Linked DNA regions of Homo sapiens. The protein of the gene in region 1 purifies or fractionates together with the protein of each later gene. This does not show direct contact. Each region holds a gene or a part of one and is shown in the gene's direction. Other genes may lie near its edges.

The links.
Region 2: the proteins of TMEM63C (region 1) and DNAJC18 purify together in Homo sapiens (affinity purification with mass spectrometry; one large-scale study listed by BioGRID and IntAct). This does not show direct contact.
Region 3: the proteins of TMEM63C (region 1) and ZNF787 purify together in Homo sapiens (affinity purification with mass spectrometry; one large-scale study listed by BioGRID and IntAct). This does not show direct contact.
Region 4: the proteins of TMEM63C (region 1) and FAM241A purify together in Homo sapiens (affinity purification with mass spectrometry; one large-scale study listed by BioGRID and IntAct). This does not show direct contact.
Region 5: the proteins of TMEM63C (region 1) and SLC30A6 purify together in Homo sapiens (affinity purification with mass spectrometry; one large-scale study listed by BioGRID and IntAct). This does not show direct contact.
Region 6: the proteins of TMEM63C (region 1) and RNFT1 purify together in Homo sapiens (affinity purification with mass spectrometry; one large-scale study listed by BioGRID and IntAct). This does not show direct contact.
Region 7: the proteins of TMEM63C (region 1) and SNX14 purify together in Homo sapiens (affinity purification with mass spectrometry; one large-scale study listed by BioGRID and IntAct). This does not show direct contact.

The regions. Positions count from the first base shown.
Region 1 is NC_000014.9:77,247,798-77,251,297, forward strand, and holds part of TMEM63C (osmosensitive cation channel TMEM63C), read left to right. Parts: intron 1-549; coding exon 550-712; intron 713-969; coding exon 970-1,075; intron 1,076-1,493; coding exon 1,494-1,661; intron 1,662-3,500.
Region 2 is NC_000005.10:139,412,615-139,415,525, reverse strand, and holds part of DNAJC18 (dnaJ homolog subfamily C member 18), read left to right. Parts: intron 1-1,253; coding exon 1,254-1,378; 3' UTR 1,379-2,911.
Region 3 is NC_000019.10:56,118,496-56,122,464, reverse strand, and holds the start of ZNF787 (zinc finger protein 787), read left to right. Parts: upstream 1-1,169; 5' UTR 1,170-1,293; intron 1,294-3,969. UniProt on the Homo sapiens protein: May be involved in transcriptional regulation.
Region 4 is NC_000004.12:112,144,253-112,148,253, forward strand, and holds the start of FAM241A (uncharacterized protein FAM241A), read left to right. Parts: upstream 1-1,201; 5' UTR 1,202-1,328; coding exon 1,329-1,481; intron 1,482-4,001.
Region 5 is NC_000002.12:32,217,864-32,221,363, forward strand, and holds part of SLC30A6 (zinc transporter 6), read left to right. Parts: intron 1-2,349; coding exon 2,350-2,850; 3' UTR 2,851-3,500. UniProt on the Homo sapiens protein: Has probably no intrinsic transporter activity but together with SLC30A5 forms a functional zinc ion:proton antiporter heterodimer, mediating zinc entry into the lumen of organelles along the secretory pathway.
Region 6 is NC_000017.11:59,961,941-59,965,871, reverse strand, and holds the start of RNFT1 (E3 ubiquitin-protein ligase RNFT1), read left to right. Parts: upstream 1-1,131; 5' UTR 1,132-1,208; coding exon 1,209-1,264; intron 1,265-2,587; coding exon 2,588-3,045; intron 3,046-3,255; coding exon 3,256-3,332; exon of another isoform or gene 3,333-3,509; intron 3,510-3,931. UniProt on the Homo sapiens protein: E3 ubiquitin-protein ligase that acts in the endoplasmic reticulum (ER)-associated degradation (ERAD) pathway, which targets misfolded proteins that accumulate in the endoplasmic reticulum (ER) for ubiquitination and subsequent proteasome-mediated degradation.
Region 7 is NC_000006.12:85,517,359-85,520,858, reverse strand, and holds part of SNX14 (sorting nexin-14), read left to right. Parts: intron 1-2,810; coding exon 2,811-2,851; intron 2,852-2,983; coding exon 2,984-3,103; intron 3,104-3,500. UniProt on the Homo sapiens protein: Plays a role in maintaining normal neuronal excitability and synaptic transmission. May be involved in several stages of intracellular trafficking. Required for autophagosome clearance, possibly by mediating the fusion of lysosomes with autophagosomes.

The DNA.
Region 1 (3,500 bases):
TTTCACCATGTTGGCTGGGCTGGTCTCAAACTCCTGACCTCAGGTGATCTGCTCACCTCGGCCTCCCAAAGTGCTGGGACTACAGGTGTGAGCCACCATGCCCTGCCGTATTGCCCACATTCTTAATGCAAGAAAATGCTAAATTTCAGTTAGAGATTAGTGAAAATAAAGATGTTATTTTTTCCCATCCTAGTTTACAGACCCCCCAGAAACCCACTCATGGATTCTCCCGAGTCTTTGGACCTGGCTCAGACACCCTTGCTTTGGATCAAGCCAATGCATGTATCCCCTAACACACCCATGCTTTATGTGGTCCCTGCCCCTCCCTGCTCAGGGGACTGCTTGTTAACTTCATTGGGTTGGGGACATATATATTATAGGAGAGAGACAGAGAAAAAGAAAGAGAGGAAATGTTATTCTCCTTGTCTGTATCTGTATCTCCACTCCGATTCCCATTCCCTCTGCTGCTCTCCTCTCTCTCCTCCCTTTTAACATCTCTCCCTCTCCCTGTGGCTTCTGTTGCCACCTTCCCTCTCCCTCACTGCCCAGGTGTGTGTTCCTGCCAGACAACGGCGCCTTCTTTGTCAACTACGTGATCACGGCAGCTTTACTTGGCACAGGCATGGAGCTGCTGCGTCTGGGGTCACTCTTCTGCTACAGCACCCGCCTCTTCTTCTCTAGATCAGAGCCAGAGAGAGTCAACATCAGAAAGGTACAGACTGGCTCTCCGCTGAGCACAGCCCTCAGTTTCCTTTGGGAGGGTGTCAGGGATAGAGCCTGCTAGAAGCACCAAGGGGGTTGAGGTGGGAGGGACGGTGTGGATGGGTGTTGGTGGGGCACCTTGGTCTACAGGGTTGGAAAGGAGGCTGCCTCCAGGCCTGAGCTGCCAGGAGGCTGATGAGGAGCCACAGAAGTAGTCAAGCCAAGGGGACTGGGCCACCTCAGGGTGACACCTGCCTTCTGCCCCAGAACCAGGCCATAGACTTCCAGTTTGGGCGTGAGTATGCGTGGATGATGAACGTGTTCAGCGTGGTGATGGCGTACAGCATCACTTGCCCCATCATTGTGCCTTTTGGTGAGTCATCTCCAAGGCATGCCCAAGGGCTGCACATCCGCAGATGGGGAGGAGGAATTGAGCCTCACAACATCAGTCCACCTCCTGGAGCATGGGGAGACCTGTGGTAGGGAGGGGTCAGGGCCAGGGCCAAGCTGGGGGTACAGGGCAGCTGAGGTTGGATGGCTGCCGATGGGGGATGTTTGTTGAATGAACGCATGAGAGAATGACTCTTCACCAAGCTGAAACAGTCAGTTCTCGGGGCTCAAGGGAAGCTGCTGGCTCCGGAGGTCAGTACCACGGAGCTCCCCCAACCCATCCTTGGTTGTTGTGACTCTGACAGCCGTGGATCTGGCTTCTCAGGCCTGTGGAGACACTGGAGCCACAAAGGTCCAGACTTGAAGGGGCCACTGAGTAAGTTTCCACCTTTGTCCCCCAGGGTTGCTCTACCTGTGCATGAAGCACTTGACGGATCGCTATAACATGTACTACTCCTTTGCACCCACCAAACTGAACGAGCAGATCCACATGGCTGCCGTCTCCCAGGCCATCTTTGCGCCACTCTTGGGTCTGTTCTGGATGCTGTTCTTCTCCATCCTGCGGTTGGGTAGGTACCAAGCCAGCCTGGAGACCCCACCTCCACCTGCCCCACTGTTCTGTGAGTCCCTTAACACTGACCCTGTTAGAGGAGAAAAGCCCAGGCAGGGCAAGACGCTGCTCACCAGACCTGGCCACACCCAGTGACTTCTCTGGGCCTAAAGGGCCTACATTAGAGTCTCAGCTGAGCTTCAAGGCTAAGAGGAGGCCCTGGACCAACATGGTCCCCAGGTGTGGATTTGGGTTTCCAGCGCTCAGGGAAGGAAACCTCATATTCCTTCTTTCTAAGTCTAGACGGGTGGAAAATAGAGTATCAGCTATTGGGAGGCTCAGTTCCCATGACATTTCCTCTGGGATCCCATAAGATGCCTGGTTTTTTGTTTTGTTTTTTAATTTTATTTTTTGAATCAGAATCTTGCTCTGTCGTCTAGACTGAAGTACAGTGGCGCGATCACGGCTCACTACAGCTTTGACCTCCTGGTCTCAAGCAATTCTGCCACTTCCCCCTCCCCAGTAGCTGGGACTACAGGCGTGAGCTGTCATGACTGGCTAATTGTTTTTAATTTTGTAGAGATGAGGTCTCACTATGTTGCCCAGTCTGGTCTGGAATTTCTGGGCTAAAGCGATCCCCTGGCCTAGGCCTCCCAAAGTGCTGGGATTATAAGCGTAAGCCGCCGGTGCCTAGTGGTAGATGCCTGGCTTTATGGGTTGCCAAAAAACCTGGAAGAGGAAACAGAGCCTGCAGTAGGGGCCAGCTTTTTCCTCACTCTTTAGCTACACACAGCTACTGCTCCTGCCCAGGGGAGCTCAGAGACACCCTCCCAGAAGCAGTCCCTGCAGGCCACAGATTAGAAATCTCTCAGCTTTCTCCCCGTTGGAGGCACCTTAACCCCCAGCAACCCCCAACCCCACTGCCCTTCCCTCAGACACCTGACCTTAACCTTCTCAGTGGTGGGAGAAGGGAGACGCGGTGTTTTCTTTCTTTTTTTTTTTTTTTCTTTTGTTTTTAGAGACGGAGTCTCGCTCTGTCGCCCAGGCTGGAGTGCAGTGGCCTGATCTCGACCCACTGCAACCTCCGCCTCCCGGGTTAAAGCTATTCTCCTGCCTCAGCCCCCTGAGTTGCTGGGACTACAGGCGGGTGCCACCACGCCCCGCTAATTTTTTGTATTTTAGTAGAGACAGGGTTTCACCATGTTGCCCAGGCTGGTCTCGAACTCCTGAGCTCAGGCAATCCGAGGCAGTGTTTTCTTTTCTCTCCCTGCCATGGTGGCATCCATACGGTCGACTCTCAGTCATTTATGTGGCTTACCCATTTGCCATCACCCCCAATTGCTTATCCCGCTAGCCTTTCCCTGCCACCCCAGAGACTTCATTTTTTCCATAATGCTTTTTTTCTAAGAATAAAGGACTGCATGTTTATCATCAAAAATAGAAAAAATATAAAGACCAACATGTAAATGACCCATCATCTTACCCAGAACCTGATGTCTTTTGTTCCCAGCCCCCTTTCCAGGCATGCGCTTTGGGGCTTTGGGCATGGGAACATTGAGAGGGAGCAGTTGGTCTATTGTTACTTTGCAAAACTGCGATAGTCCATATTGTAACATTCAGTCCTGTACCCTGAGGTTTTGTACTGAACACAATGTTCTGAGCAATTTCCTAGGTTGTTAAAAGACTGAACACGTAGGTGCCTTTCAGCGGTTGCATGAAAGTCTACCAGTTTTAGTCAGTTCTCCGTGATTGGATATTGAGGTTTGCCACTTTTTGCTACTATAAAAACACTGCAGTAAGCATCATTAAGCAGTGATTTTTGGCTGTAAAGCATAATTTAAACAACATTTACCTAGTT
Region 2 (2,911 bases), on another chromosome or scaffold:
GGGAGACCCACTGCTTGCCAAGCAACTGCTGGGCTAGAGCCCAGGCTGTGCGGCCTCCATTGTAGAGGGAGGGTTTTTATGCATATCCATCCCTCACTCTGGAGTCCTGCACTTAATCTGCACTTTGGGCCTTACTTGGGGGTAAATAGCATCATTGTGCACAGAAATGCCAGACAGTGTTTTGTGTTGATAGAAACGTATTCAGAAAGCAATGCCCATTGTTCCCCCTGGCTAAATAATAATTCCGTTTCCAGGCAGTTTGCTGATTAATCAGACAGGTGTCTTTCGTTCCACCAAGAAAAACAAAATCTGTCAGCAAGATGATTAAGAATAGATAGGCATATTTCAAAACAATTAAAATAGCATTTTTACAAGTCTGGTCCTTTAAACATTGAGTAGCTGCCTGCTGTTGGAGGCTTTCAGGAAACACACACCACATCCAAGCATGCCATCCTGTTAATACGCAATACGTCTCTAAAGGTGCTCTTCAGGCATTCCTCCCTGAATATGTCTGAAACCTCACAAAAGAATAAAAAATAGAGGCAACCAAACCACTGTTGAGTCAGGAAACACAGCAGAGATTATATTCTGGTTAAAAATAGAATGACCTTCTCCACCATAAAGAGAAAATGAAATTAATTTAGTCAAGGAGACAAAGGTCACCGGATCCAGATGATTCAACTTTTAGAAAGGCCCAGCTGCCTTTGGCCTTTGAGTTGGGGACCCTACGTGTGGTGAGGGAATGAACAGCGCCAGTAGTGCCCTGGCCTTCTGTGGACGCACACCCGGCAGCAGTAGGCTCTGTGTGCCTTCGCACATGTGAGTTATGATGCAGCAATGCAGGAGAAGAATAAAGCAGCTGTCTGTTTCAGATGACAGGAATAGGCCACTGGACTCCATTCTCTCCCAGCTGCTGTTGGAATCCCGTTTGTAGGAGGCTATAGGGTGGTCTCACTGCACATGCGCAGGTTTCCTAAGTCTGGTGCCAAATGTTTTCTTGGTAAGAACTAAGTCCAGTGCTTTTATAAGAGAGCACAGATACTGTTGGACTGCAGGGTCACAGGTGCCCTTTAATCCTCCACACCTGGTCTAGTACCTAAGACGTGTTTTGTGAATAAATGACTAAATGTTTCTTATATTTAATTGTAAGAAAAAGCTTGAAATGAAGTAAAAGGAGCTTTGACTCCAGAAACATTGAAATGAAACAAAGGAGTTCAGCTCTTGATGAATTGGTTACCTCTTTTATCTTTCAGAGTCAGAGCTGACAAATTTGGCAGGATTATACAGAGATGAACGATTGAAACAGAAAGCAGAGTCGCTGAAACTTGAAAACTGTGAGAAACTTTCCAAACTCATTGGCCTACGCAGAGGTGGCTGAGAGGATAATGGTCCTACGCAGGGCTGGGGTTTTGCTACTTGTTCCTATTTATGTTCCTGATTCCATTTTATAATACAAAACTAGGTAATGATGAACACTTTACTATTTGCTAACTTCGTTGGTTGGGCAGAGTGGCAGGAGCATGGGCACGAGAGCCAGATGTGTCTTCACAGGATCCTTCCTGGGGAGTGGCTCCAGGGACCAGGAGTAGTTCATCTAAGTTAAATTAATGGCAAGGCATTGGATTCCGTCTCCCTGCTCCATGCCTACCCTGCCTATGTGAATGGAGTTCAGGGCATCCCAGAGCAGATCCATGCTTTCTTCCTTCTTCCCTTCTTCAGTGAAGTCTTAAGAACCAGGCATTCCTAGGCTTAGCCAAAGCTTAATATTAGTTATTTACACTGTCTACCAAGAATTATACCTCTCCCTTCATTAGAGTCATCATCTCCGCCAAGATTTAGCCTTTGGAACATGTTCCTGCCCAGCTTTCCATTTTCTAGGGGAATATGGAGAAATTTAAACTATTGTAGTCAATAGTTTTCTATTATTCCAATCTCTGCTCAGTTAGTAGCATTAGCAAACTGCCTAATTTGAGATTCCTTTATTTCCTTAACCCTCTCTCCTTTAGAGAGTCCAGAAATTAAAACTACTGAGCAGCATCTGGAGGCGGGGGCCAGGGCGAAGGTATAATGCAAGACCGAGCCTCATCTCCTCCACGAAGCCTCCCTACTCCATCATAGAACCCAGAGAATGTCCCTTCGGTCATTTCCCCTCAGTATCATCATTGGTGTCATCGCACTTAGGCTGAGTTCCTACATCCCACAGAGGCAGATGGTCAGACCCAGGAGGAGGCATTGCCAGCTCTCCAGGCTGTTTGCTCAAGCCTAGAGATAGAGGAGACAGATCCTCTCTCCTTGGATATGGGGGTCTAGCTTTGGCCCCAGCAGCCACTTTGTTTAACCCAGTATCCTATAGTTTGTGATTTGAGATGATTTTTCATTCATTCAACATTTATTGAGTGCCTACTATAAAAGCAGGGGCTCTCACACATATTTTCTTACTTAAACCTCCTCACAACTCTGAAGTAGATGTATTATCCCTGGTTCTATGAATGAGAACATTGGCCCAGAGAGGATGACCCAGGTCTTGTAGTGGCAGAGCAAGACGGTAGGCTGAGTGTCAAGTAGAAAGTGGGAGAGCATCCTCATGTCTCAGGTGATTCTAGCCAGACTGGCAAAGCAGAACCTTTCCCGAGGATGCCTCCGTCCTCCCCAACCCCATGACCCCTCATCTTTTCTGTGGCAATCTTGCATCTGTTCAGGACAACATCCCTGCTGCTCTTTAGGAAGCAGGACCCTGTCTAACATAAATTCTGTACACAAAATAAGAGGTCCCTCACAGGCAGGCAGCCCTCCACTGGTGACTAGGAAGAATTCAGTCACTGCCTGGGCTGTGTGGTTCTGGGCCTTCCTGTGGAGCTGAGCTGCCTGAATTATCATGACTCTGAACTTGGAAGGATCATTAAGTGACTGT
Region 3 (3,969 bases), on another chromosome or scaffold:
ACTTACTATGGGCCAGGTATTGAACTAAGCAGCTCTTACACATATTACCTTGCAGGTTATCTTATTTTTTCCCATTCCACAGATGAGAAATTGAGGCTGAGAAAGGTGTTATTCCACCAGTGAATTATAGCTTCTTATCTTTTCTGACTACCAGTGAGGATGATAACAATTATAAGCGATAAGTCATCTGCCACTTAGGTGAGAGTCAGCCAAGTACAGAACAGAGGAAGGACCAGAAGGACCAGCCTACAAGGACACTATGGTTTGGACAATTATTTTAAAATATGTGTTTTTTGCAAGAATACCAACAGTAACAGCTAACACCCAGTGCGTCCTTACTAGGTGCCTACCTAACGCGGGGGAAGTAGTGGATTCTCAGGGCTATGACACGAGGCAGTGTGTACAGTCAAGGGTTAAATACACGAATTTAGAGCCAAACTCCATGGGTTCGGGCCGAGGCTCTGGCATTCCGGGTGTGTGACTTTTGGTAGGTGATTTGACTCCTCACCTGCAACATAGGGATAGGACCTACCATGAGGCCCTAGTTAGGACTAGGACCTAGTGCGTGTGAAGCACTTGGAGGCGCACAATGTATTTTCATCACTTCAGAAAGGAGGAAACTGAGGCCATGGCACCTGAAGCGCAGCACTCTCTGTCCAGTAACTAAGGAACCCGGGGTCTCTGTCCAGTAACTAAGGCACCTGGACTCGGGCCACTGGGAGGTGCAGCGGCAGAGAAGGGGTTACCATGATAGAGACGGTAGGAGGACCCGGGGTGGCACGAGCGTCCCTCTCCACCACTTCACTCTCCTCACGGCGGGCCCGGGGACCCGGCCGCGCAGGCGCGAGGAGCCCGGGTTGTCGGGGGGGCACCGCCCTAGACACCCGGAAGTCTCCGCCTAACGGGCCCAGCCCGCACCTCCTGTCCGGGAAGGGGGCGGGGCCGAAGCCCCTCGGCGCGGGGCGCCATAGAGCATGGACGGAGGACCTGCGTCCTAGACACTTCCGGAAGTGGCTCCCTCAGGCGCCCGCCGGGCACCACAGAGCTGGGGGCGGTGGCCGGGATAGCGGGCTCGCCTTCCTAGAGCGGCGAGGACAGGGTGGCGGCCCGGGGGGCAGGGAGTAGGGAGAAGGGGGGGAGCGGCGCGGGCGGAAGCGGCCGGGAAGGTCACTTCCGGCCTGGGCGCCCGTCCCCCTGACCCCAGGGTCTGAGTCGCCGCTGCCGCCGCTGCCACCATCCGCGAGGCAGGAGAGAGGAGGAGGAGTGCGGCGCGGCGGCCCCGGGACCAAGGAGGTGAGGGGTGGGGGCGGGGGCCGTGCGCTGGGGGCCAGGTGGGCGCGCGCTTCGGGAAGCTGGGCTTGGGCTGGGGGTGGGTGGGGAGACTGGAGGGCGAGCGCGACTGGGCGGCGGGCGCGCGTGCGCGCTGCTGGGGGGGCGTGAGTGGGCGCGCGGCCGGGGTGACGCGGGCGGGGGGAGTGCGCGTGCGCGCCGAAGAGCTGTGGGAGGGGACGCGCGCCCGGGCGGCCCGCGGGCGGCGAGCGGGGCTGGAGGGGGGGTGCGCGTGCGCGGGTCCGGGTCCAGGGCGCGCGCGTGCGCGTGGCGGGGGCAGGAGCGGGGGCCTCGGTGGGGGTCCCTCTGCTGCGGGCCGTCGGGGGTGGGGCCGCTGTCCGTCCCCCCGAAGTTCCAACTCCGCCGGTCGTGGCCGGAAGTGGTGGCGACTTCGGGGGGAAGTTGAGGCCCAGGTGGGGGAAGGGGCCGCGCGGTTGGGCTGGCCTGGCCGGATACCGCGGCCCCGAGGGCACGGTCTCAGCCCTCGGCCCCCCCAGCCCTTCCTTCCCCTTTTCGAGTCAGCCCGGGTCCCGTTGCTGCCCCGGGCGGGCTGCGCGTGGCCTTTGATCAGGCGGGTAATTACGGGGATTCTGGCCGGCAGGAGGCCCATTCATTCGTCCTTGCTCGGCAGGCGGGGAGGAAGCGCGTCCCCAGCGGGGGAAGTGACTGGGCCAAGGTCAGCCACCGCGTGGCCCACGGGGCAGGGCGAAGGCGGGGACTGGATCGGGTGGCGACTCCTGAGGCCTCCCTCCCCTGTGCCGAGTGGATCAGAGTGGAGCCCCGCCCTCCTGACACCCCACCCCGACCCCCAGTCCAGGGAGCTGACCCCAATTCATGTGGATGAGTGCTCTGGGACCTGCAGAGTCGCACAGAAAAGTGACCCACAGACACAGAAGGCAGGAGTGAGTGGAGGCAGAAGTTTTTCCAGTGCCAGGCCCTGTGCCGGGCACTAGAGACAGGGAGCAGGGAGATGAACAAGGGCTTGGAGTCTGGGTGGAAGGCAGAGACTGAGACCCGGGCGACAGAGTCGCCATCCAAGGTGACCAGACCCCTGATGGAGAGGTCTGGGGGCTGTGGGAGCCAGGGAAGGCATTTTGACCCAGCCCAGTCCGGGGGATGGTCAGGGCTTTAGGGAAGGAATGGCTTGGTCTGCTCTTTGCGGTGTCCTGCTCCCAGGTCCCATGTTGCGCAGTGCTTAGAACCCATCTGGGGATCCGATTGACCCCAGCGCCGGGAAGCACAGTTGCGTTGATCCTGGCTTAGCTCCTCTGAAGACCGTAAGCCTCTTTGGCTAAACGCTGCTGACATTCACCTGCCTGCCTCTGCGCAGTCCCTGTGGTCCTCCGGCCACGCACGGCCTCAGAGAACATCCAGATCAGATTCCTGCTTGCTTATCTCATGTCTTATCCATCCATCCGGGCACCCGGCCTGGCCCCTCCCTGGTGCACTGCCAGAGTGTGTGCAGGCACTGGGTTGTATTCCCCAAGAGCTCTGGGACTGGGCAGGCCTGGGTTCAAGTCCCAGCCCCACCACTCACCTTCGTGGCCTTAGACGAGTAACTTCAGTGCCTTACTTTCCACCAGGACAGAGTGGGAGTGGTAATAATAGTATTGACCTCAGCGGGAAGGCTCTTAATGCTTTCATTTTAGAGCCAGAGCAGACCTCAACAGATGGGTGTAAAGTAAATGGAAAGGGCTCTGGAGCCAGGCCCTTTCCTGGGCCTTGGCCTTGGCACTGTCTCTTCCACTTCTGTGACCTTGGACATGTCACTTCCCTTTTCCCAGGTTCAATTTCCCTTCAGTTGTCTAAAAACGAGAGCAAGTTCACAATTCCCTGAGTAAATGTAATCCATCCAGGCGGCTGCACAGGCCAGGCCCTGTGCTGGGCATGAGGTCACACATGGTCTTGGCACAGCACTGTCCTGTGAGGGCCCAGATGAGGTGCCTGGCCCAGCCTGGGTGAAGAGAGGGATCTCAAGGCCCTTCTGTGCAAGCACAAGGTAGAGTGGTGCTCCGTGCTGGGCAGCCTGGCAGGAATCATACAGTCCCTGTCCCAGAGCAGCTGAGACCCATTCACACTGGGCAGAGGGGTGGGGAGATTTGCCAGAGTGCTCCCGGGAGCTCTGACCTTGAGGGAGGGGTGTGTGGTGCAGGGGAGGTATTGTGTCTTGAAAGATAGAGAGGAAGGATTGGCTACCAGGAACCTGGTACTTAAGGGAGGATGACAGTGGGCTCTGGGCAGGGAATGGCAGGGGTCACAGCTCAAGGCCACCAGCAACTGCCTGGCTGCCCTGGGAGGTCTTTTGTTACTAGGCATACACAGCTCTCAGGACACCCATCCTCAGACATGTTTCACAGGCCTTTCCAAACCTCGTTCGTGTGTCCTCTGGTGCATCCTGAGGCCTCCAGCCTAGTGAGGACTGTGCCAGGTGCTGGGGCCTCTGTGGTGTGAGAAACTGCAGATTCGACAACACTTGCTGGTGCACACTTTGCAGGAACCTGGCCCAGTGCCTGGTCCTCACTGTCCTAAATTCTCAAGGCTCTGGGATGGAGGTGGTCACCTCCATTTTAGGGGTATGGGATGGAGGCTCTGGATGGCACTTGTTAGCCCAAGGCCCCCAGCAGCTTCAGAACCTGTGTC
Region 4 (4,001 bases), on another chromosome or scaffold:
CATTTTCCTTGAATAAAATGGATGGAGTAGTACAAAAAATAATTATCAATTGGATATATTCCCCTCACCACCCACTGAGAAAGACATATTCTTACCCAGTTACAGAAAGATACATCATTTGATACACCATCAAACGACCCAAGGCTCCAACAAACAACACACACTAGGAAGCACTCAACAGAAAGGGACAAATACACAGACCTTCAGTGAGACACTAGGAAAGGAGGCTAAAGGAACAAGAGGGACAGTGAAATGTGTCTTCCTTGAAAAGGACGGGCAGATACTCAGGCAAGAACAGGGGTACTCTGCTGGAGAGTGTAACTGGGTGCATGTGTGTGTTTCTCTCTCACATACAAACCCACACACACTAATCTCTTATACAAATGCGCTCTCTCTTAAATATATGCACTGGCTCTCTCACACAAGTAATTTCTCTTTCACACTTGATCTCTCTCAGTTTCTGTTGTTCCCTCATACAATCTCTCTCTCACAGTCTCTTGCATACACATACAATCTCAATCTCTCTCTCTCTCTCTCTCTCTCTCTCTTTCCCCCCCCCCTCCTCTCTCTCTCTCTCTCTCTCTCTGAAACGGGGTCTGGTTCTGTCGCCCACGCTGGAGTGCAGTGGTGTGATCTCTGCTCACTGCAGCCTCGACTTCCCGCGCTGAGACGATCCTCCCACCTCAGCCTCCTGAGTAGCTGGGACCACACTGCCGCCACCACGCCCGCCTAATTCTATTTTTAGTAGAGATGGGGTTGCCCAGGCTGGTCTCCAACTCCTGGGCTCAAGCTATCTGCCCGCCTCGGCCTCCCAAAGTGCATACAATCTCTTATACGCAGTTTCTTTTATATAGAATCTCTCTCACACACACACACAAATCACGCTCAGCGTCTCTCTCACACTCTCTAACGGTCTCTTACGCACACACAATATCCCTCATACATACACACAGCCTCTCTCATGTACAATCTCCCTCATGCAGTGTATGTCCATAGTTTTTCACACAACACCCTTCTTCTCTCAGTCTGTCGGCCTCTCTCTCAATCTCACACACACACCCCCGCCCCCCAACACACCGTTGGCCCCGCCCCCTGTCTTGGCCCCTCCCCTGTACGGCTCCGCCCCGACGGCCGGGGGTTGGGCGAGCCAGTGACAGGAGGGGCCGGGCTGGTACTTCAGGCGCCCAGGCCGGCGGGGCGCGCTCCGGCGGCTCCTGTCAGCGGCGGGTGCGGCGGATCCCAGGGCAGCCTTCGGGCGGCGGCGCTGCCTGGTGCGTCGCGGCGTGGTCCTCCGGCGGCTGTCCGGGGCGGTAGGAGTTGGCTGCGGGATGTGCTCAGCCGGGGAGCTGCTGCGGGGCGGCGACGGCGGGGAACGCGACGAGGACGGGGACGCGCTGGCGGAGCGGGAGGCGGCAGGGACCGGGTGGGATCCCGGGGCGAGCCCGCGGCGGCGCGGACAGCGGCCGAAGGAGAGCGAGCAGGTGAGCGCGGGGAGGGGCGGCGGCGAAGCGGCCGGGTCGGGGGCCGCGAGCCCCGCCCGGCGTTGGAGGGAAGGGGCCCGGCCCGCGGGCCGCGCCGCAGCTCTGCCCCGCGTGGGCACTGGCTCCCCGGCGCTCTGGGAAGTCGTCGCCGGGAGCGGTTAGACGGCGCTCCCAGGAGGAGCGGCGGGGTCGCGCGAGTGCAGACGCCAGCGCCGGCCCCGGGGTCGCGTGTCTGGCGGGGTCAGCGTGGTTCGTCCCCTGGCGTCCGGCAGAGGATTCTCAGGCTGGCGCCCAGGGCTCGGAGGAAATGCCCTCCATAGCGGTGATTTATTTAAAAGCCTCACTTGTAAACACTTCTTTTTCAACTTCGAGTCCGTGCCCTGCGCCAGGTTTAGGAGACGCCGGCTCCCCTCCCGCCCTCCATCTTGCGTTTCCGAGCCCACACCTAGCGTGTCTGGAAGGTGTGGGTGGATTCCGTCCACGGGCAGCGCTGAAAGCATGAGTAGGAGCGGGTGTTACAATGAATGTCTTGACAGGGACTCTCCCAGAGCACGTTCTTCATAAATACAGATGAGATCAAAGCTTCAGTTAAAAAGTGGAGAGGCAAGAATATTGCTTTCGGTTATAAGAGGCCAGCCATAGTAAGGGAAAAGAGAAGTTGCGTAATTTTTTAAACTCTCTGAGTTTATCTCATTTAAATAAAGTGTGATAATGGGCATTATAACATCAAATATCTTAAAGATTAGGCAAAAGGTTTAATTTTAAAAATTGAATTGTATGTTGGATGAATTTTCTACAGCAAATACAGTATTTAGACTTTCCAAATACCTGAGGTAAGCCGCTCTTTAGACTCACATTAAGGAGCAGGAATTCAAATGATTATTGGCCTTTATTACAGCCTGTACTGTTAGGACAATTAATACCTGTCTCTCCTCATCTTTCTTCATCTGTCCTTTCTGTCACGTTTCACAAATTCCAGTATCATCACTAAATGCATTAATAGATGTATACCTTACATTGTTTCAATAGGTTACTTAGGAAACAGAGTAATACTGTGTGGCACACAAAATATGCCTTAGCGTTAGGTTTGATCACCACGTGGAGTGTAATTTTTCATCTGTGACAATATAAGAGAAAGTGACTCAAGCAAATAATTTGGTAGCTTGTTCTTCGGATTCCCTTCCTAGTGGTTTTTCCCGTTAACTATTCATTTGCTCAAGGGCTTGATTTCCTCTAACTTAAATTGCTTAACTGGAAAAGTGAAGAAGACAGCACAAGAATTCCTTTGGGGGTGGGGAGGGGTTGCATTTGAGCAGGGGTTTCCAAAGTAAATTTTCAAATAGTTGTAAGGGAGCATATAAAAATACTTCATTTAAGCTTCTGTGTACTTCATTAGTATGATTATGTAGACATCACTAATAGTTGTGGTCTTTCCAAAATTGCTTATGGTACAAAGTAAAAGGATAAAACAAAAAATGAAAAGTACATCTTAGAAAACATATCACTTTGCATACCTGCCTCCTTCATTGAATGTCATGAAAGTTCATTCTCCTGTACTCCTTTGAAGTGTTATTTTTATCATTCTGTTTTTGCCTCAAGATTTATTAATGTATTCTAAGCCCCCATACACAATAATTGAAAATCACACCGGAGATAGGCATTTCCTACTACATTAGCACCAAAGAAGAATTAGTCAAGAAGACAAAAATAAGCAAAAAATTGGTGCAACCCAACCCATTGTTGTAAAAAGCAAGCTTTTCTGATAAAACGTTTCTTGGTAATGTTATCACAAAGCCTTGTTTTCTAGTTTTTTTCAAGTTCTGTAAATGAAATTATGCATTGCCATGTAATGATGGTAGAAATAGTATTACATGTGTAAAGATATTTGAGGAAGAAATGAAATTAACAACTATGGAACATATCCCAAGGACTCATTTTATTTAGTTTTTATTTAGGGAGATGATTTTTGTTTGTCCTGTTGGTTGGTTTAAGGATACAAGGACTCCAGATTACAAATGGAATATTTTTGAAAGATTGGTTTCTAAGTTAATGATTTAGAACTTAAGGTGAACTTTTCCATGAAAACAATGATATAAACAGGAACAGAACCAAAACTAATTAGCTGGAAATGAGACAGAGGCCATCTTCCTGCCGTCTTTTCTACTTGGCACGCTCACTTCGTGTTCCGGAGTCATGGATAGCCTCATGGGTATTGAGAGGAAATTAGAGGCAGGAGCTAGCAGAGGCGCTCCTTTTAACCCAGAAAAGAGCTATGGTTGTATGCTCTTGAACACCATAGCTCCAGAGGCACCTGACTTGTGCTCCTCTAGCTCTTTCAATGATTTTGTCAACACCTAATTTTCTGTATTAAGTCCCTTTCTATTTCTATTCCCCTCACAGAGTTTGCCCTTTCCTAATAATTTGATGGAGGTTTCTTTCTTGGGCTATTTCTCAAGCTAAATCCTCGTCCACATACATCCCTTCCTTCACTGATTTTTCTTTCCACTTCTGTCTGAAAGG
Region 5 (3,500 bases), on another chromosome or scaffold:
ACAAGGTCTCTCTTTGTCACCCAGGCTGGCGTGCAGTGGTGCAGCCACTGCAGCCTCGACCTCTAAGGTTCAATCAATTCTCCCACCTCAGCCTCCTGCGTAGCTGAGTAGCTGGCACTACAGATGTGTGCCACCACGCCCAGCTAATTTTTTTTATTTTTTGTAGAGATGGGGTTTCACCATGTTGCTCAGGCTGGGGGAGTCTGTGTGTGTGTGTTTGTGTTAACCAAAATAGGATCATTTGCTGATTATCTACTTTAAAAACATAATTTATGGACCGGGCATGGTGGCTCACGCCCGTAATCCCAGCACTTTGGGAGGCTGAGGCAGGAGGATCGCTTGAACCTAGGAGTTCGAGACCAGCTTGGGCAACACGGTGAGACCTCATCTCTACAAAGAAAACAAAAAAACAAAACCAAAAAAACCCATAATTTATGGTAAACACTTTTTCAAGTTAACAAATATACTTCTAACTCTCATTGTAATGCCTGGTGTTCTCTATCCCTTAGAAGCCTTGATATCATCTTTGATGAGTCAATCTTCCTCATCCTTTACTTCCAGCTGGGTATCAAGTCCTTCCATTACTACCTCTGGAATATGATATATCTGTCTGTCCCTCTCTGATCCCACTATTTTTGGCCTGGCTCAGCTCTCCTCTTTTGTTTTGTTTTGTTTTGTTTTGTTTTGTTTTGTTTTGTTTTGTTTTGTTTTGTGACAGAGTCTTGTTCTGTCTCCCAGGCTGGAGTGCAGTGGCATGATCTCTGCTCTCTGCAACGTCTGCCTCCTGGATTCAAGTGATTTTCCTGCCTCAGCCTCCTGAGTAGTTGGGATTACAGGTGCATGCCACCATGCCCAGCTAATTTTTGTATTTTTAGTAGAGACGTGATTTCGCCATGTTGGCCAGGCTGGTCTCAAACTCCTGACCTCAGGTGATCCACCTGCCTTGGCCTCCCAAAGTGCTGGGATTATAGGCATGAGCCACTGCACTTGGCAGCTCTCCTCATTTATAATCTAGATTGTTGAAGTTTTTTTCCTACCTGATTTCCAGTCATCTATACCTACAATTTTTCTGAACTCTGATTATTTATTTCTGTTAGGTTGCAGATGTTAAATTGAAATTCTTTATCATTTTAGAGTCCTCTGGTAGCCTCTTTTTAACCTTATTACCTACCTATCATTTTTCTTTCTTCCTTCTTCCCTTCTTCTCTTCCCATGCTGGGAGTGCGATGGCGTGATCTCGGCTCACTGCAACCTCCGCCTCCCAGGTTCAAGCAATTCTTCTGCCTCAGCCCCCTGAGTAGCTGGGATTATAGGCACATGTCACCACACCCGGCTAATTTTTGTATTTTTAGTGGAGGTGGGGTTTCACCATGTTGGTCAGGCTGGTCTCGAACTCCTGACGTCAGGGGTGATCCGCCCACCTCAGCCTCCCAAAGTGCTGGGATTACAGGCGTGAGTCACCACACCCAGCCCTTTCCTCTGTTTCTCCTTCTCTTCTTTCCTTCCTCTCTTCCTTCTCTCCCTCTCTTCTCTCTCCCTCCTCCTTCTTCTGCCCCCTGAAATACTTGGACTTCTTTTTTTTCTTTTTCAAGATAGGATATCACTCTGTCACTCAGGCTGGAGTGCAGTGGTGCGATCTTGGCTCACTGCAACCTCCGCCTCCTGGGTTCAAGCTGTTCTCCTGCCTCGGTCTGCCAAGTAGCTGGGATTACAGGCACACGCCACTATGCCTGGCTAATTTTTTGTATTTTTAGTGGAGACTGGGTTTCACCATGTTGGCCAGGCTGGTCTCGAACTCCTGACCTCAGGTAATCCACCCACCTCGGCCTCCCAAAGTGCTGGGATTACAGATGTGAGCCACTGCGCCCGGCCAGGACTTCTTTATATATTGGTATTATTGCTTATTCTTACCAAGTATGCCATACATTTTCATTGCTTTTCCCTCAGTGTGGAATGCGTCTCTACTTTTTGAAATTCTGTTTAATCACCAACCGTAGATTAAATGCCATCTTCTTTTGAAGTCCTCTTCAATTGGAATTAATACCTACCTTTTCGGCTCTTACATTGTATTTTTTGTATGTTTCATTTATATTCTTCCTTGTATTATAATATTCCTATCTTGTTCCTACATGGATATTTCTTTTTTTGTATTTTAAAGATTCACAAATTATTTAACTCATTACAATGATAATCACCAGCAAGTAGTCTTTAAGAAATATTAACATTAAGCTTTTTCTTTCAAAGAAAATGCCAGGAACTTACCAAATCATAAATAAAATGTTTTATCTAATGAATTTTTTGTTAGTATAATTCTAAGCAATCTCTTTGTTATGATTTTGCCCCTTTTAGGCTGGATCAGTGCATGTAAGAATTCGACGAGATGCCAATGAACAAATGGTTCTTGCTCATGTGACCAACAGGCTGTACACTCTAGTGTCTACTCTAACTGTTCAAATTTTCAAGGATGACTGGATTAGGCCTGCCTTATTGTCTGGGCCTGTTGCAGCCAATGTCCTAAACTTTTCAGATCATCACGTAATCCCAATGCCTCTTTTAAAGGGTACTGATGATTTGAACCCAGTTACATCAACTCCAGCTAAACCTAGTAGTCCACCTCCAGAATTTTCATTTAACACTCCTGGGAAAAATGTGAACCCAGTTATTCTTCTAAACACACAAACAAGGCCTTATGGTTTTGGTCTCAATCATGGACACACACCTTACAGCAGCATGCTTAATCAAGGACTTGGAGTTCCAGGAATTGGAGCAACTCAAGGATTGAGGACTGGTTTTACAAATATACCAAGTAGATATGGAACTAATAATAGAATTGGACAACCAAGACCATGATAGACTCTAACTTATTTTTATAAGGAATATTGACTCCTTGGCTTCCAATTTATTTAGTAATCCAACTTTGCATTGACTGTTTAATCATTTACTCTAAATGTTAGATAATAGTAGTCTTGTTCACATTTCATGAAACCTATGAAACTATATTTTTGTAAAATGTATTTGTGACAGTGAAATCCTCGTAAATGTTAAAGGCTTTAAATAGGCTTCCTTTAGAAAATGTGTTTCTTTAAATTTGGATTTTGGTATCTTTGGTTTTGTAGTTGACTGCAGTGTGATGTGACCTTACCTTTATAAGAGCCACTTGATGGAGTAGATCTGTCACATTACTAAGATACGATATTTCTTTTTTTTTCCGAGACGGAGTCTTGCTCTGCCACTGTGCCCGGCCAATACATTATTATTAACTTAAGGCTGTACTTTATTAAGGCTTCCTTAGTTTTTGTTTTGTTTTGTTTTTTGAGATGGAGTCTCACTCTGTCGCCCAGGCTGGAATGCAGTGGCATGATCTCAGCTCACTGCAACCTCTGCCTCCTGAGTTCAAATGATTCTCCTGCCTCAGCCTCCCGAGTAGCTGGGATTACAGGCACCTGCCACCACGCCCAGCTAATTTTTGTATTTTTAGTAAAGACGGGGGATTTCACCAT
Region 6 (3,931 bases), on another chromosome or scaffold:
TTACAGGCACGCACCACCACACCCGGCTAATTTTTGTATTTTTAGTAGAGACGGGGTTTCACCATATTGGCCAGGATGTGGCCACGATCTCTTGACCTTGTGATCCACCCGCCTTGGCCTCCCAAAGTGCTGGGATTACAGGTGTGAGCTACCACTCCCCTCCTCAGCTTCGTTTTCTTAATGACCTTTTAATTTTAGAACAGTTTTAGATTAACAGAATTTATTTTATTTATTTATTTTTTGAGACCGAGTCTCACTCACTCTGTTGCCCAGGCTGGAGTGCAGTGGCACGATCTTGGCTCACTACAAACTCCACCTCCCGGGTTCAAGTGATTCTCGTATGCCTCAGCTTCCCGAGTATCTGTAGCGGGGATTACAAGTGTGAGCCAACGCCCCCGGCTAATTTTTGTAGTTTTAATAGAGACGGGTTTCACCATGTTGGCCAGGCTGGTCTCTACCTCCTGAGCTCAAGTGACCCGCCCGCCTCGGCCTCCCAAAATACTGGGATTACAGGTGTGAGCCACTGCGCCCGACCTAAACTTCGTTTTCTTAATAACCTTTTAATTTTAGAACAGTTTTAGATTAACATAATTATTTTGAGGGCAGTAGGGTCCTCTATACCCCACGCAAGACAGGTTTTTCAACTCTAACTTCTACTTCCACCCCACGCAGACTCTCCGCACCTCTCTCCTCTCATCTCGGGTTCTGACAAGGCCTGATCCTCACAGCCCAAATTCACGATTGTGAGGAAAGGTCAGCTCAGACCAAACGTCACCGCCCAGACAGACACAACTAGGTCAGGCGTCAAGCTCGCGGACATCCGAGCCCGGAAACCCTAACACTCCTCCAGGGGTAGGTTCTCCAAGCCTGAACATTTTTAACCTCAAAACGCCCAGGATCTCGGAGGCGTGTGGTGGATGCCACATAAATACATAACACATAACAACGACTTATTATTTAGCGCCAGGCCTGAAGGCCGTTCTCAGGCGCAGCTCGCTTGTTCTCGCTGCCAAAACACCCCGGCAGCCGTGAGCTCTCCACTCGGCGCGGTGCGGGGGCGGGGCTAGGAGGTGGAGCCGGGGCAGGGCGCGCGCGCGCGCGTGAGAACGTCCGGGGAGCGCGCGCGCCGCCGCCGTTGCCGCCGGGCTGAGAGAAGAGCTTGCGGGGTTTGCGGTTGATGGCCCCGACTGAAGGGCTGGAGGCGGTGTATGCCGCTGTTCTTGCTGTCGCTCCCGACACCTCCGTCCGCTTCTGGTCATGAGAGGTTAGGCCTGGGGGAAGCGGGCAGAGGAGGAGGCGGCGAGGGGCCGCGGCGCAGGGGGCTCTGGGGAGAATAGGCACTCGAGGCTCGGACGTGGGTGGAGAACTCTGCCCTCGGAGATTCCGGAAGAGTTGTGTTGAATTTTCTTCCCTTTTTTCTCCTCTTTCTTGTCTGTGCATGAAGGAAAGTGGGAGGGTTCTATGTTATTTATAGAAAAGACACTGAAAGCCTGCTGTCCAACGTCGCTCTTCAGTTTTGACGAAATAACACCCGTGGCGTCGGGGCCTCGGTGAAAGCCTTTAGTGAAAAGCACTGAAACCCAAACCGCCAGACACGGTGACTGCACCACTGTTCAGTCCTGGGAGTGAAATAGAATGACACAGAACATTCCCTGACGTTAACTCTAGCCTCCTCCTAGACAAACGGGAAAAGCACGGCAGTGTGGGATAGCCTCTGCGTTTTGTCAGCTGGGATTCCGACTCTGTTCTTCTGTTTCTAGGAGGTCCACACTGGATCATTTATTAGAGAGATCTTTCTCTGCTAGAGTCCTCTTTCCTCACACCCCTCCCTCCGTAATACACACACCACCGACGGTGGCATTTTATTGGGCGGACTGTGTAACTGCTTATTCAGACTAAAGAGTTACCTAGCAATTACGTGGTGACTCTCCAAAGTATCTATGCTTTAAATGTATTTAGGTAACATTCTTTTGCGCGGGGAGGTAATATTATTGGTGGCACCATTAATTATTGGAAACTTTATGAGCTTTGGGAAAGCTGCTTGAGCAGAAAATCTAATTTGTAGGTCACCTAAGTGCAGTGTTTATTATTAGTTACCTATGATGATAATAAGGCATTAAGATTTAATGTTGTTTTTTTTCCTAACATTTCCAACCATTAAAAAATACTGGCTCACTCTTCCTTATGAAACTTCTTTGATGTAGAATCTACATCAGAGATGAAACTGCACCATTTGGGAAAAGTAAATGTACCAGAGTACCCAGTGAGGACTGGTGCTCATTAACATCTGCTGGGTACCCATACTTCATGACTGTTTTGCGGATGCCTTCTGCCATTAGAGAACTGGAAGCATTTGCAGCTCAACTTTTTTTTTTTTGGTGCAAATGTTCCCTAAAAGATCATTTGTGTAGGGCAGCAGAGCCTTGGCATTAAGGGAGAAGGGAGGAGTCCAGTGATAAATAACCTGAAAATTCATCTGTTGTGATTATTTGCTACTCCTTTAGTGAATAAAGGATACCCAGTGAGGAATATACTGCTGGTATTTAACTGCCTGTTTACTTAGAATATCTTTTATTTGATTTTTTAGGAGACAGAGGCCTGAAGCAAAGACATCTGGGTCAGAGAAAAAGTATTTAAGGGCCATGCAAGCCAATCGTAGCCAACTGCACAGTCCTCCAGGAACTGGAAGCAGTGAGGATGCCTCAACCCCTCAGTGTGTCCACACAAGATTGACAGGAGAGGGTTCTTGCCCTCATTCTGGAGATGTTCATATCCAGATAAACTCCATACCTAAAGAATGTGCAGAAAATGCAAGCTCCAGAAATATAAGGTCAGGTGTCCATAGCTGTGCCCATGGATGTGTACACAGTCGCTTACGGGGTCACTCCCACAGTGAAGCAAGGCTGACTGATGATACTGCCGCAGAATCTGGAGATCATGGTAGTAGCTCCTTCTCAGAATTCCGCTATCTCTTCAAGTGGCTGCAAAAAAGTCTTCCATATATTTTGATTCTGAGCGTCAAACTTGTTATGCAGCATATAACAGGTAGGACATAATAAAACATTGACTTGTTTTCATTCCTAAATTCAGTTAATTTTCTTTCATTATTGGTAATCTACTTAATGCATCCAGTTACTTATTTTCTGTGAGCTTTTATTATTGTATATGTTTATTTTTAATTTGTGTCATTGTTAGCTTATATAATCCTCTTTGATTTTTTTTTCTTTCAATTAACTGGAACTTATTTTCTAACAGGAATTTCTCTTGGAATTGGGCTGCTAACAACTTTTATGTATGCAAACAAAAGCATTGTAAATCAGGTTTTTCTAAGAGTAAGTATAACAAGCAACTAAAAAATTATTAACTGTTTCTCTCCATAGATTTTAGAGAAATAATTTTGAGAGAAATAGGAAATAACTTGAAAGAAATAGGAAGTAATAGGATATATTGTAACATCCACGTTATGTTAAATTTGTTATCTAAATCCTGGAATAAATTATCTCTCCTAATGCTGAATTCCTTCACCTTACCTTCTTTGTAAGAAAAAAAAATTGGTTACTGTTAAAGTAGTAAAAAGGATTAAAAGAGTTAGAACACGGTATCTGATCTGATTTGGCAAGTCCCTTCATGTTGTATCAGTTACTTTGACCATAGTAAGTAAGACCATCATCATGAAAAACTTTTAGTGGCTGGGCATGGTGGCTCACACCTGTAATCCCAGCACTTTGGGAGGCCGAGGCGGGCAGATCATGAGGTCAGGAGATTGAGACCATCCTGGCTAACACGGTGAAACCCTGTCTCTACTAAAAATACAAAAAATTAGCTAGGTGTGGTGGCATGTGCCTGTATTCCCAGCTACTCGGGAGGCTGAGGCAGGAGAATCACTTGAACCTGGGAGGTGGAGGTTGCAGTGAGCTGAGATCGCACCACT
Region 7 (3,500 bases), on another chromosome or scaffold:
ACAGATAAACTGTGGTAAAGTCATAACGTTGAATACCCATATCATGAGGCTACTAGCAACAATGTGGATGAACTTTTAAAAATGTTGAATGAAAGAAACAAAACATGAAAGAATATATACAGTCTGATTCTTTTTACATAAACATCAAAACAGACCAAACTAGTGTAAGCTGGAAAAGTTTGAATAAAATTGTTAAAAAATCGTTGGGCGTGGTGGCTCACACCTGTAGTCCCAGCAATTTGGGAGGCTGAGGCAGATGGATCACTTGAACTTAGAAGTTCAAGACCAGTGTGAGCAACATGGTGAAACCCTGTCTCTACTAAAAACACAAAAATTAGCTGGGCATGGTGGTGGGCGCCTGTAGTCCCAGCTACTCAAGAGGCTGAGGCAGGAGAATTGCTTGAACCTGGGAAGTGGAGGTTACAGTGAGCCGAGATTGCACCACTGCACTCCAGCCTGGGCAACAGAGCAAAACTCCATCTAAAAAAAAAAAAAGGTAAAAAATAATATAGCATTGACTAGTTGCAGTGGCTCACACCTGTAATCCCAGCATTTTAGGAGGCCGAGGTGGGTGGATCACTTGAGGTCAGGAGTTCAAGACCAGCCTGGCCAACATGGTGAATCCTTGTCTCTACTAAAAATACAAAAATTAGCTGGGCGTGGTGGCGTGCACCTATAATCCCAGCTACTTGGGTGGCCTAGGCAGGAGAATTGCTTGAAACTGGCAAGTGGAGGGAGCCGAGATCATGCCACTGCACTCCAGCCTGGGCGACAGAGTGAGACTACATCTCTACTACTATTACTACTACTACTACTGCTACTACTACTACTACTACTACTACTGTATAAAAGCAATATTTCTAAATATATTTTATTTTTTATTCATTTGTATTCATTATGGTTTTTAGAGACAGAGTCTCACACTATTGCCTAGGCTGGAGTGCAGTGGCACAATCATAGTTTTTTTTTGTTTTGTTTTGTTTTGTTTTTTGAGACGGAGTCTCACTCTGTCACCCAGCTGGAGTTCAGTGGCACGATCTCAGTTCACTGCAACCTCCATCTCCCGGGTTCAAGCGATTCTCCTGCCTTGGTCTCCTTAGTAGCTGGGATAACAGGCGTGTGCCACCACGTCCGGCTAATTTTTGTATTTTTAGAAGAGACGGGGTTTCACCATGTTGGTCAGGCTGGTCTCGAACTCCTGACCTCGGGATCCGCCCGCCTCGGCCTCCCAAAGTGCTGGGATTACAGGCGTGAGCCACCACGCCCAGCCAACACAATCATAGTTCACTGCAGCCTCAAATCCTGGGCTCAAGTGATCCTTCCTGCCTCAGCCTCCCAAAGTAGCTAAGACTACAGGTACACACCAGCACACCTGGCTAATTTTTAAATATCTGTAGAGATGGGATCTCGCTTTGTTGCCCAAGCTGGTCTTGAACTCCTCAATTGATCTTTCCACCTTAGGTTCCCAAATTGTTGGACTTACAGGCGTGGAGCCACCCTGACTAGCCTCTAAATATATTTTATATGATGTAATCTGAAGTAATGTATATGGAACTAAATCAGTGAGTTAAATAATGCAAGTAGACATTTGGCTTCTGTCTATACCCACACCCCCACCCAAATCAATACATTTATTTGAGTCAAAATATTTAGTGTTTGTGTATCTTTTTATTGGGGGAAAAAAGTGAGGACAAAATATTTGGTTATATATGGCATTTAGGAGATTGGGTATTCCTGGTTACTGACTAGGTTTGATTGAAGAAGAAATGATCAGGGATGATCCAAGTTTCTATTTAAATAACTGGATGAATGCTGTTACTTGTTGGAATAGGGGATACATTAAGAGCAGTTTTGAACTTACTGAGTTTATAGAATCCAGTTGAAGTTTTATAAAGCAGGAGAGTCCAGGAGACAGGCAGAGATTAGAGATTTGAATTTTATTTGAAATCAGATTGAGCAAATAATTTGGCTCAGTAAGAACACATAGAAGACAGAAAAGCATAGGATGAAACCATATAATTTAAAGAACTTGGGAACATTCTAAGGAGGGGGTGTTATGAGAACCAGAAATACCAGAAATAGCCAAATGGGAAGGTTGGGTGGTTTGCCTGTCACAAAACAGTATTTTTATTCTTTATTATTAATGTCCCCTTCTATTGCCATAAATCTACTTTTTTCTGATTTGTTCAGAAAGCAGTTTAAGTTGTATTTATCAATTTTGATTGATTTTTAAGTCATTTCTAAATGCTGGAGAAAATCTCAAGATGTTTGATGTTTCAAATTAAGGGAAGCTGGAGATCAAGAAGTAATTTTGGCAAACATAGGATTTAGAATAGAAATTCTTAATCTAAAATTCAGAATATAAACTACTGAAATAGTTTTAAATATTGAGGCAGTTCTTAAAACTTTTTTTTGACTGACCTTTGCATATCTTTAGATACCATTATATATTCACTGTTACTGAAAACCCTTTGAAAATATTTCTTATAGAAATTTTCACAAAAGTAGACAAAATTATGTAATAAACTTCTTACTCAACGTTGTTATCAACCCTTGGCTTGTTCCATCCCTTCTCCCACCACTTACCTCACTGGATTTTTTTAAAGTAAATCCCAAATATTCTATCTATAAATATTTCAGAATACCATATTTATTGAAAATTTCCATGGAGTGTGAAATGGTCAATCATAAATACTTTTACAGTTTTAACTTGGCTATTTCGTATTTAAAATTACCTGGTTAAGTATTCATGTGAGCAATTATGAAGAGTTTTATGCCTTCCTAAAATAATGTTTTACTTTTAATTGCAGGGAAAATTATAAAATCTGTTCCTGGAAAACTAATGAAAGAGGTGAGTAACTGATTTATGTGTGTTCTATAACATGATAATCATAAACATATTTAAATATTGATAAATTTTGCTGGATTATGTACTAAAAATTACCTTTATTTTTTATTTTCTTACAATAATCTATCACCACAGAAAGGTCAGCATTTGGAACCTTTTATCATGAATTTCATTAATTCTTGTGAGTCTCCAAAGCCTAAACCAAGTAGACCAGAACTGACCATTCTCAGCCCTACTTCAGAAAACAACAAGAAGGTACTGCACATTGCATTAAAGAACTATTAAGTTTTAAGTTGCCCTACTTGAGATTACTTTTTCATTGTCGAGAGAATGAATACTTTGTTAATGAAATGGATTGAGCTATACATTTCCTTTATGTGGAAATCAGTTGAACGGTATACAGAGGGTATTGTGTGTAATTACTTGGTTCTTTGCTTTAATGTGGTAAATGTTTCTCTGGATACTATATTTGCAAACTGATGCCACTTCTGTATTTGGGGATTTTTAAAAGTGGTTTTCTTAGGTTATATGTCACCAACTTTCAATAATAAGAAATTAATTGCTATACTGTGTTTATGTTTATTGGATGGCATTACCTAACTTTCATGGCTTATAAAGTATTTTATCCATTCATTAAACAAACATTTTATTA